Homo sapiens: one gene and its partner. The protein of the gene in region 1 purifies or fractionates together with the protein of each later gene. This does not show direct contact. Each region holds a gene or a part of one and is shown in the gene's direction. Other genes may lie near its edges.

Region 1 (3,500 bases):
AGTTCCACACTCTAGGGCAGTTGCTGATCTTATCTGAAGCCCTCATTGGGTGGTAAGCTCTAGACAGCAGGAGCATGATTTATACTGTGGTACTGGATTGTGTGCTTAGCAGGTGCGTGTGTGTGGCTGTGATTCAGGGGATGCTGTGGGGGTGGGCTGAGGTTTGAAATCCGGCCGTGAAAGTAGGTGAGATGCAGCCGTGCACGGATGGGCGTCGCTGCCTTAGAAGCCGACATAGGAAGAGCCAGTGATGGACTTGAGCAGGGAGCAAGAAGCGACAAACCATAGCCTGTGGCCCGTAGCTGCCCCCACTCCGTGCTTTTGTAAATACAGTTCAGTGTAACAAAAGTGAGGCTCATTCCTTACCTTGGTAGAGTTGAGAAGCTGCTACCCTAAAGCCTGCACAGCCCAGAATATTCACTACCTGGCCCTTTACCAAAGAGTTGGCCATGCCTCCCGAGGAATATAAAGGAGAGAATGGTGGAAAGTTAACTGTGAAGGGTAGGCGGAGCCATAGCAAATACCTAGGAAGACATAGGGCAGAAAACGTGCAAGATGTCTACACTGGAAACTATGAGAAACATTGAGAGAAATTAAAGAGCCAGATCTGTGCATCTAAACTGTCAGCGCATCAGACTCCCTGGAGGCTGCGTCCAACACAGACTGACAGGCCCAGCGCCTGAGAGTTTCTAATGCGGCAGGTCTGGGATCGGACCCAGGAATGTTTCTGACAAGTTCACAGATGCTGCTTCTGGTCCAGACACCACACTTTGAGAACCACACATCTAAATAAATGAAGCCATGAGCCATATTCATGGGTCAAGAAAAGATCGCAGAGACATCAGTTCTCTGCAATTTGAGAAACTTTCATGCAAATCCCGCTTAAAGTCACCACAGGGGCATGCGTGTGTTTATGTGAATATGCAAATTGACAAACTGATACTAAAATTTATGTGGAAATAAAAAAGGACTAAGAAAGCTAAACAGACTTAAGGAAGACTTTAAGAACTCCAACAAAACTGGAGGACTCTGCCAGATATCAAGACTTACTATAGAATGGGCACAGTGGCTCATGCCTACAATAACACCACTTTGGGAAGCTGAGGCCAGAGGACTGCCTGAGCCCAGGAGTTCAAGATCAGCCTGGGCCATGTAGCAAGACTTTGTCTCTACAAAAAATATATAAAAATTAGCTGGGTATGGTAGTGTTTGCCTGTAGTTCCAGCCACTGGGGAGGCTGAGGTGGGAGGATCACTTGAGCTGGGGAGACCTAGGCTGCAATGAGCTGTGATTGTACCACTGCACTGTAGACTGGGCAACAGAGTGAGACACGGTCTCCAAAAAATCAACAAAAGGCATATACAAAACATCAATATTTCATTATGTATATGCAAATATTTCAAAATGTGAAAAAATCCAGAACACTTCTTATCCCAAACATTTCCGATGAGGAGTACTCACCTGTATTATGGAGAAAAAAAAGCTCAACATCATTAGTCTTCGTGGAAATGACACTGAAAATCACAGTGAAATATGACTGCATTCCTCTCCTTCAGGGCGCTAGAGCAACCAGCCCTGCCGAAAGCAAGTGTCAGTCAGTACAACCACTTCGGAAAGCTGTGTCCACCCACCCAAGCAGACACACATCTTCAGACCCGGCGATTGTGCATAGGTTTATATCCAACAGGTACGCATTGCTTATCTTCCCTAGCAATGTTCTGCCTGCCTACCTAACCCGTGCCTAGGTATCTCTCCTTTTCCTGAGACATCCTTCTTTCAGGATTAAGCTAATAAGACCAGGCTAGCTTGAGAAATTTGCATGTGTTCTTGTGTTTTCATCCCCAAAACAACAGTGTACTATGCTTTCAACTATAGTCTCTGAAATTGTGTAGACCACAGGCTCTGTATGGGCCTGGGAGTTAGATGCTTTGGGTAGGTGGGCATTTGAATACCTCTCAGATCACAGTGTGGAAAGCATCAGACTACACCACATGGATCAGCTCTCAATCACTTCTGATAAGACAAAAAAAATACATTAGCAGGGCACAGACGTGCACCTGTAGTCCCAGCATCTCTGGAGGCTGAGGCAGGAGAACCACTTGAGCCCTGGGGGCAGAGGTTACAGCGAGTCAGGATCGCGCCACTGCACTCAACAGCCTGGCAACGGGAGTGAAACCATCCCCCCCACAAAAAAAAAAAAAAGTACAGCAGAAGCAGAGTCCACACTCATAGCATTATAGAGTCAAATAGTCTATAAGGTTTATAAAAGCATCAGTCCGCATGTACCACCTCCATTTCCTACTCAATGGGAGGCAACAGCTCTTAACTCTACCTATTTGTTATTTACCTCCACTATTGACATATTGCTATATATCCTTTGTTTTTTTCATGTGTCTGTATTAAGTATGCACAATTTCAATCTGAGACAACTCTGTTATGGTGTCGGTGTGTATGTTGCTGTGCACAGATGATAGATAAATGCTTTCTCTCACATTAGTTTTTCTGTGGTTGCTCATGGTTTCGGTTTTGCTTGCATGGTTTCCTTTGCCACCCTTGGGCTTGTTGTGAACTAGACTACTTGCTGAGCGCACAGGTGGCTTCCTGGGGAGCCCTCGTTATTCTGGGATTCCCTGCAGCTTTCTCATGTGGACGCTTCTGTTACCTGGCTCCGTGTCTTCTGTCTGGGTTTACTCCGTGTTTAGAGGAACAGCTGCCCTTCCTGACTACCCTGCAGAGGCTTCCTCAGACAGGCTGACATGGGAGATCAGATTGAAGACCTTGCATGACTTAAAAACACCTTTATTCTTCCGTAGTTCTAATTAATAATCGGATTATGTATAGGATCCTAGTTCACAATTTATCCGGGTTTTGAGCCCCCATTGTCTCCCGGCTTCTGGTGTTGCTGCTGAGAAGTCTGTTGCTGTTTTCTGATTCCTGATCTTTTGTTTGTTTAAATTGTTTGGAAGTTATTTCAAACTTAATGAAGTTATAAGAATAGTACAGAGAACTCCCACCTACGCTTTAATTAGATTCACCAATTTTTAAATTTTTTCCACATTTTAACATGCGCTCTCTCTATATACACAACACACGCACACTTTATTTTTTCTGAACCATTTGAATGTAGTTGCTACATAATGCTCCCCTCAATACTGAAGTACATTTTAAAAACAAGGATACTATTCTCTTACGTAACTTAGGCAGTTATCAAATTCTGATTTCTGAATTTTTTTTTTCTTTTTTTTTTTTTTGAGACAGAGTCTTGCTCTGTCACCCAGGCTGGAGTGCAGTGGTGCAGTCTTGGCTCACTGCAACCTCTGCCTCCCAGGTTCAAGTGATTCTCCTGCCTCGGCCTCCTAAGTAGCAGGGATTACAGGTGCACACCACCATGCCCGGCTAATTTTTGTATCTTTAGTAGAGACAGGATTTTACCATGTTGGCCAGCCTGGGCTCGAACTCTGGAGCTCGAGTGATCCACCCACCTCGGCCTCCCACAGTAC
Region 2 (4,530 bases), on another chromosome or scaffold:
TAACCCTCAAACTAGGGAGGTAGCATTTGAACTAAGTCTTGAGAATGATTTTGATAGGGGTTGGAAGGTGCAAGTGGGGTAGGGACACAGCATTCCAAGCTGGAGGAAAATGACTCAGAAGTGGTAAATTTTCTAGCCATATTCTTGGCAAGATGATCTCTACTGTCACTTCCAGTTTTATAAAGTCTTATGTGCTGTATGTTTTTTTTAATCAGGCAAAATATACTTAACACTAAATTTGCCATTTTAAGTGTACAGCTCTCTGGCATTGGCTACATTCACATTGATTTTGTGTTTTTTTTGTTTGTTTGTTTTTTGGGTGGTTTTTTTTTTGTTTTGTTTTTTTGTTTTGCTTTTTTTTTGTGACAGGGTCTCACTCTGTCTCCCGAGCTGGAGTACAGTGGCGCAGTCTTGGCCCACTGCAGCCTCCACCTCCCAGGTTCAATTGATCCTCCCACCTCAGCCTCCCGAGTAGCTGGGACTACAGGCATATGCCACCACACCTGGCTACTTTTTTGCACTTTTTGTAGAGATGAGGACTCCCTATGTTGCCTAGACTGCTCTCAGACTCCTGGACTCAAGCGATCCTCCCACCTCGGCCTCCCAAAATACCAGGATTACAGGCGTGTTGTGCAGCCCTCACCACCACTGATTTCCAGAACAAATAAGGATTCCTTATTTTCAGATCTAGAAATTGAGTAGTTGTAATTTTAATGCTTAATGGTATATACTACTTTGTAAAGTCACATTTCAAGCTTTCTATGAACACGTTTTACTGACAGACAGTTGGCAAGTTTCTGTTTTGAATTAGTACAAACAAAAAGGCACACATTGTTTTTAACTTGGAAAACAGGTGCTTTCATTCATGCAGAACTGCAAAATAGGCAGGCATGTTTTATAAGATCTTTTTCTTTTAAATGTCAGGTGAATGGGAAGCTCTCTGAATTCATATGATAGAGTATAGTACTTGTTAGAAACAAACTTGTGGCAGAAGAAACAATTTTTAACCTATCCACCATTGTAAGAACCACTTTTTTCTTCTCTTGAAAAAAGTATAAAGGTACATCAGAGTCACAATTCTCAGGTTGCGAGTGCCTAGGTTCTATACACAAATACAAGTTATATGAACCTTTCCTGGAACTCCTCTTCCCTCACCAGTATTGTGGGAATTTATTTCCTCTATTTCCTAATGTAGACTTCACTGCTAACCAAGACTCTCAGCTTTCTGCTCACAGTGCCTGCTGGCCATCTATGTCAGGACAGAGTGGATGTCAAGATTAGTGGAGGAAGTGGTAGGGGAATATTGTTCCTCCCTTTCTCTTACAAATTCTACATAGTGTCAGCATATGGAAAGGAGAATCATTTTGTCTTAATTAACTGAGCCCTCCCTTCATGATCGCTAACCCTAGGCCACATCCCATTCCCCACACTACAATGTCAGTTCCACTCTGATTCTTCAACCCTCTCCCATCCCCTAAGCACTCATCATCATGTCACTGGGTTCCATTCTCTGCCTTGATAAAGTCACATCCTCATGGAGATGCCTGGAAATTTTAAATTGGACTCCTGAATACCTCCCAGGGATTTTTGAGTTTGAGGGCTACTGGCAGTAGCTTGAGAATCTTCACCCCGCAGCTGGGGTTGTAAAGGTGAGAAATGTGTTTCTGGCATCCCAAGTTGAGGCACCATGCTGAATATATTTTCCTACTTGAAATATTGTTAAGATATAAATAGTAGTGAGTTTCTCTGGTACTTTTTATGCTATACTACGAATGAATACATTTGTGTGAAATTGTCTTTTGGGAGGACTACCCCAGGAACTTAGACATTATTTTTATGGGAAAATGCTTGCTTTTAAAATTCTGAACATCTTACTTAAAAACCAACTTTTGGAACACAGTCCAGTCACTACTTGGCTGCTGCCAGTATAGTAAAGCCAACCATTCTACTTCCAGTCAGCTCTTTGGTCCCACAAAAATTCAGAGAATACCACTCATGAAATGGTATGGAGAGAGAGGTGTCCCTTGTATTTAAGCTATAGCTAAAATAAAAAGGGTTTAATGGTTTATTCCAGTGTTTAACTGATGGTACTGAATGGTATGTGTGTGTGTACACCTGTTTTAGAATTTGTATACATATATTCCTCCCAGGAGCCCCATTTCCTCTTGTTCAGCTCACAGGGAAGTTAATTCCACCTGGAGAAAGCACAGATTTTTAAAGCTACACTCTCCCTTTTTCTTATCCATTTACATCAGAGGTAAAATGAACAATATTCTTTCTAGGTTCCGTGTGTGCCAAAAATGCCCATTAACCGTAGCTGATAAAAGTTTGAAGTACATCAAAACAAATGAAAGCCAACAACTGAAATAAGGCAAAATATCCATTGTCCTCAAACTCAAACCCAAAATTTCTACAAGCCCTCATTTACCTCCTCATTCTTTAATGTAACTATCTTTTCTTTCCAATATCATTCAAGATAATTATTTAAAGCTTTGTTTTTTATAAAAATTACTAATAGTTCAACAATAACAAACAGTACTTTTATTTGTTTAGCTATATCATAGGCAAAAAGGTATGCGGGTAGTCTAAGCTCAGAATTTTAATTTGGAATGTTCTATGGAAAAAATATATTCGGGGTTCCCAAGCAACCATTTTTAAACCTACATTTTAGAATCTGTTCTTTATTTTTTTAATTTTTAATTTTTGTGGCTACAAAGAAGGTGTAAATATTTATGGGGGTACATGAGCTATTTTAATAAAGGCATATAATGTATAATGATCACATCAGGGTACATTTACTCTCTGTGTTACAAACAGTCCGGTAATACTTTTCTACTTATTTTTAAAAGTATAATTAAATTATTATTGACTATAGTCACCCTGTTGTGCTATCAAATACTAGATCTTACTCATTTTCTCTAACTACTTTTTGTACCCATTAACCATCACCAACTCCCCCTCCCTACTATCCTTCCCAGCATCTGGTAACCATCCTTCTATTCTCTATCTCCAAGGGTTCAATTGTTTTAATTTTTAGCTCCCACAAATAAATGAGAACATGCAAATAGAATCTGTGCTTTAGTATGTGAGATTTAACATTTTTGCTAGTATGTTATTTTGGCTCAGGTTTGTAATTATTAAATTGTTTCATGGCTTTACAGGGGTCTAAATTATGGATAATAATGGAATACCTGGGCGGTGGTTCAGCACTGGATCTTGTAAGTATTTTAAAATAGTTACACACAGATGCAAATGTGTGCATATGCACATACCTTAATTTTTTAAATTGAAGATTAATGGCTTTTGAGCACGCTAAGTGGTTGCTTTAGTTAATATGTTCAAATTAAATTCTTTTTTCATGACCTCTACCTTATGTAGGTACAGATGTATTGTACGTTTGAACATGTTGCTGGCATTCTAAGACTATATAAGAAATGCAAATAGCTTAATAAAATAAAGTCTCCCAAATTAGAAGGGGATGTGTGTATCCATTGCTGTCAAAGTTTGACTTTTGCAAGCTTATCCCTGAAAAAACTGAGTTTTCTTAGATTTTTAAAAAATATGTAATTGAGATAACTGTCACTAAAAGTGTTTTTTATGAACTGAATGTTTGTGTCCCCCCAAAATTCATATGTGGAAATCCTAACCCCCAATGTGATGGTATTAGGCGGTGGGGACCTTGGGACCTAATTAAGTCATGAAGGTGAGTTCTCATGAATGAGATTCGCACCCTTACAAAAGAGGCCCCAGAGAGCTCTCTGACTTTCTTTCCACCACGAGAGGGTGCAGTGAGAAGAAGGCCTTCTGGAAACCAGGAAGAGTGCCTTTACCAGACTCGAATCTGCCAGCCCCTTGATCTTGGACTTCTTTCCCAGTCTCCAGAACTGTGAGAAATATTGTTTAAGCCACCCAGTCTGTGGTATTCTGCTATAGCACCTGAATTGACTAAGATAGTGGTACTAGGGTTCTAAACAAGGTTGGCCTACAGATCCAGTTCTTCACAGAGTTCTCTCTGCCCCTCTATAGGTTATTTGGAAATGTGATGGCATTTGGGTTGTCACAATGACTTAGAAGTGCTCCTGCCATTTTTGTGGTCATGGATCAGAATGCTAAAATCCTGCAGTGTGCAGGAAAATTCAACCCAATGAAGATGCATTTACACACAGAATGCCTTTGAGAAACACTGGTTGTTCCCCAATTCAGTGTGATCCTATCAATGTTGAGTTTCTTTCCCTTCCTTAAAAATCTTTATTAATATGATACTATGTTTTAAAATTCAGTATGACTTATGAGAGGCAACTTAGTGTAGTAGAATGACCACTGGGCTGGCCTGGGGTGTTTGAGGTTATAGGTCTGGCTCTGTGCCTGTGAACCAGACACAAACTTCCTGGACGTAGGTGTTCTATAAAACAAAGAAGTTGCACTAAGTTATTTCTAAGTTCCCTTCCATCTTTAATATTATATTTTTTTTATTTGCGTGTTTCTGCCTTAGAAATTATAGAGTATGCTGTTTCTAAGAAAGTGTTTTGA

Evidence for each region. Proteins that work in one complex are often made in the same cells at the same time.
Region 2: the proteins of PROSER2 (region 1) and STK26 purify together in Homo sapiens (affinity purification with mass spectrometry; 2 studies listed by BioGRID and IntAct, with this or other methods). This does not show direct contact.

The regions. Positions count from the first base shown.
Region 1 is NC_000010.11:11,861,356-11,864,855, forward strand, and holds part of PROSER2 (proline and serine-rich protein 2), read left to right. Parts: exon of another isoform or gene 1-52; intron 53-1,461; exon of another isoform or gene 1,462-1,687; intron 1,688-3,500.
Region 2 is NC_000023.11:132,060,272-132,064,801, forward strand, and holds part of STK26 (serine/threonine-protein kinase 26), read left to right. Parts: intron 1-3,161; coding exon 3,162-3,218; intron 3,219-4,530. UniProt on the Homo sapiens protein: Serine/threonine-protein kinase that acts as a mediator of cell growth. Modulates apoptosis. In association with STK24 negatively regulates Golgi reorientation in polarized cell migration upon RHO activation.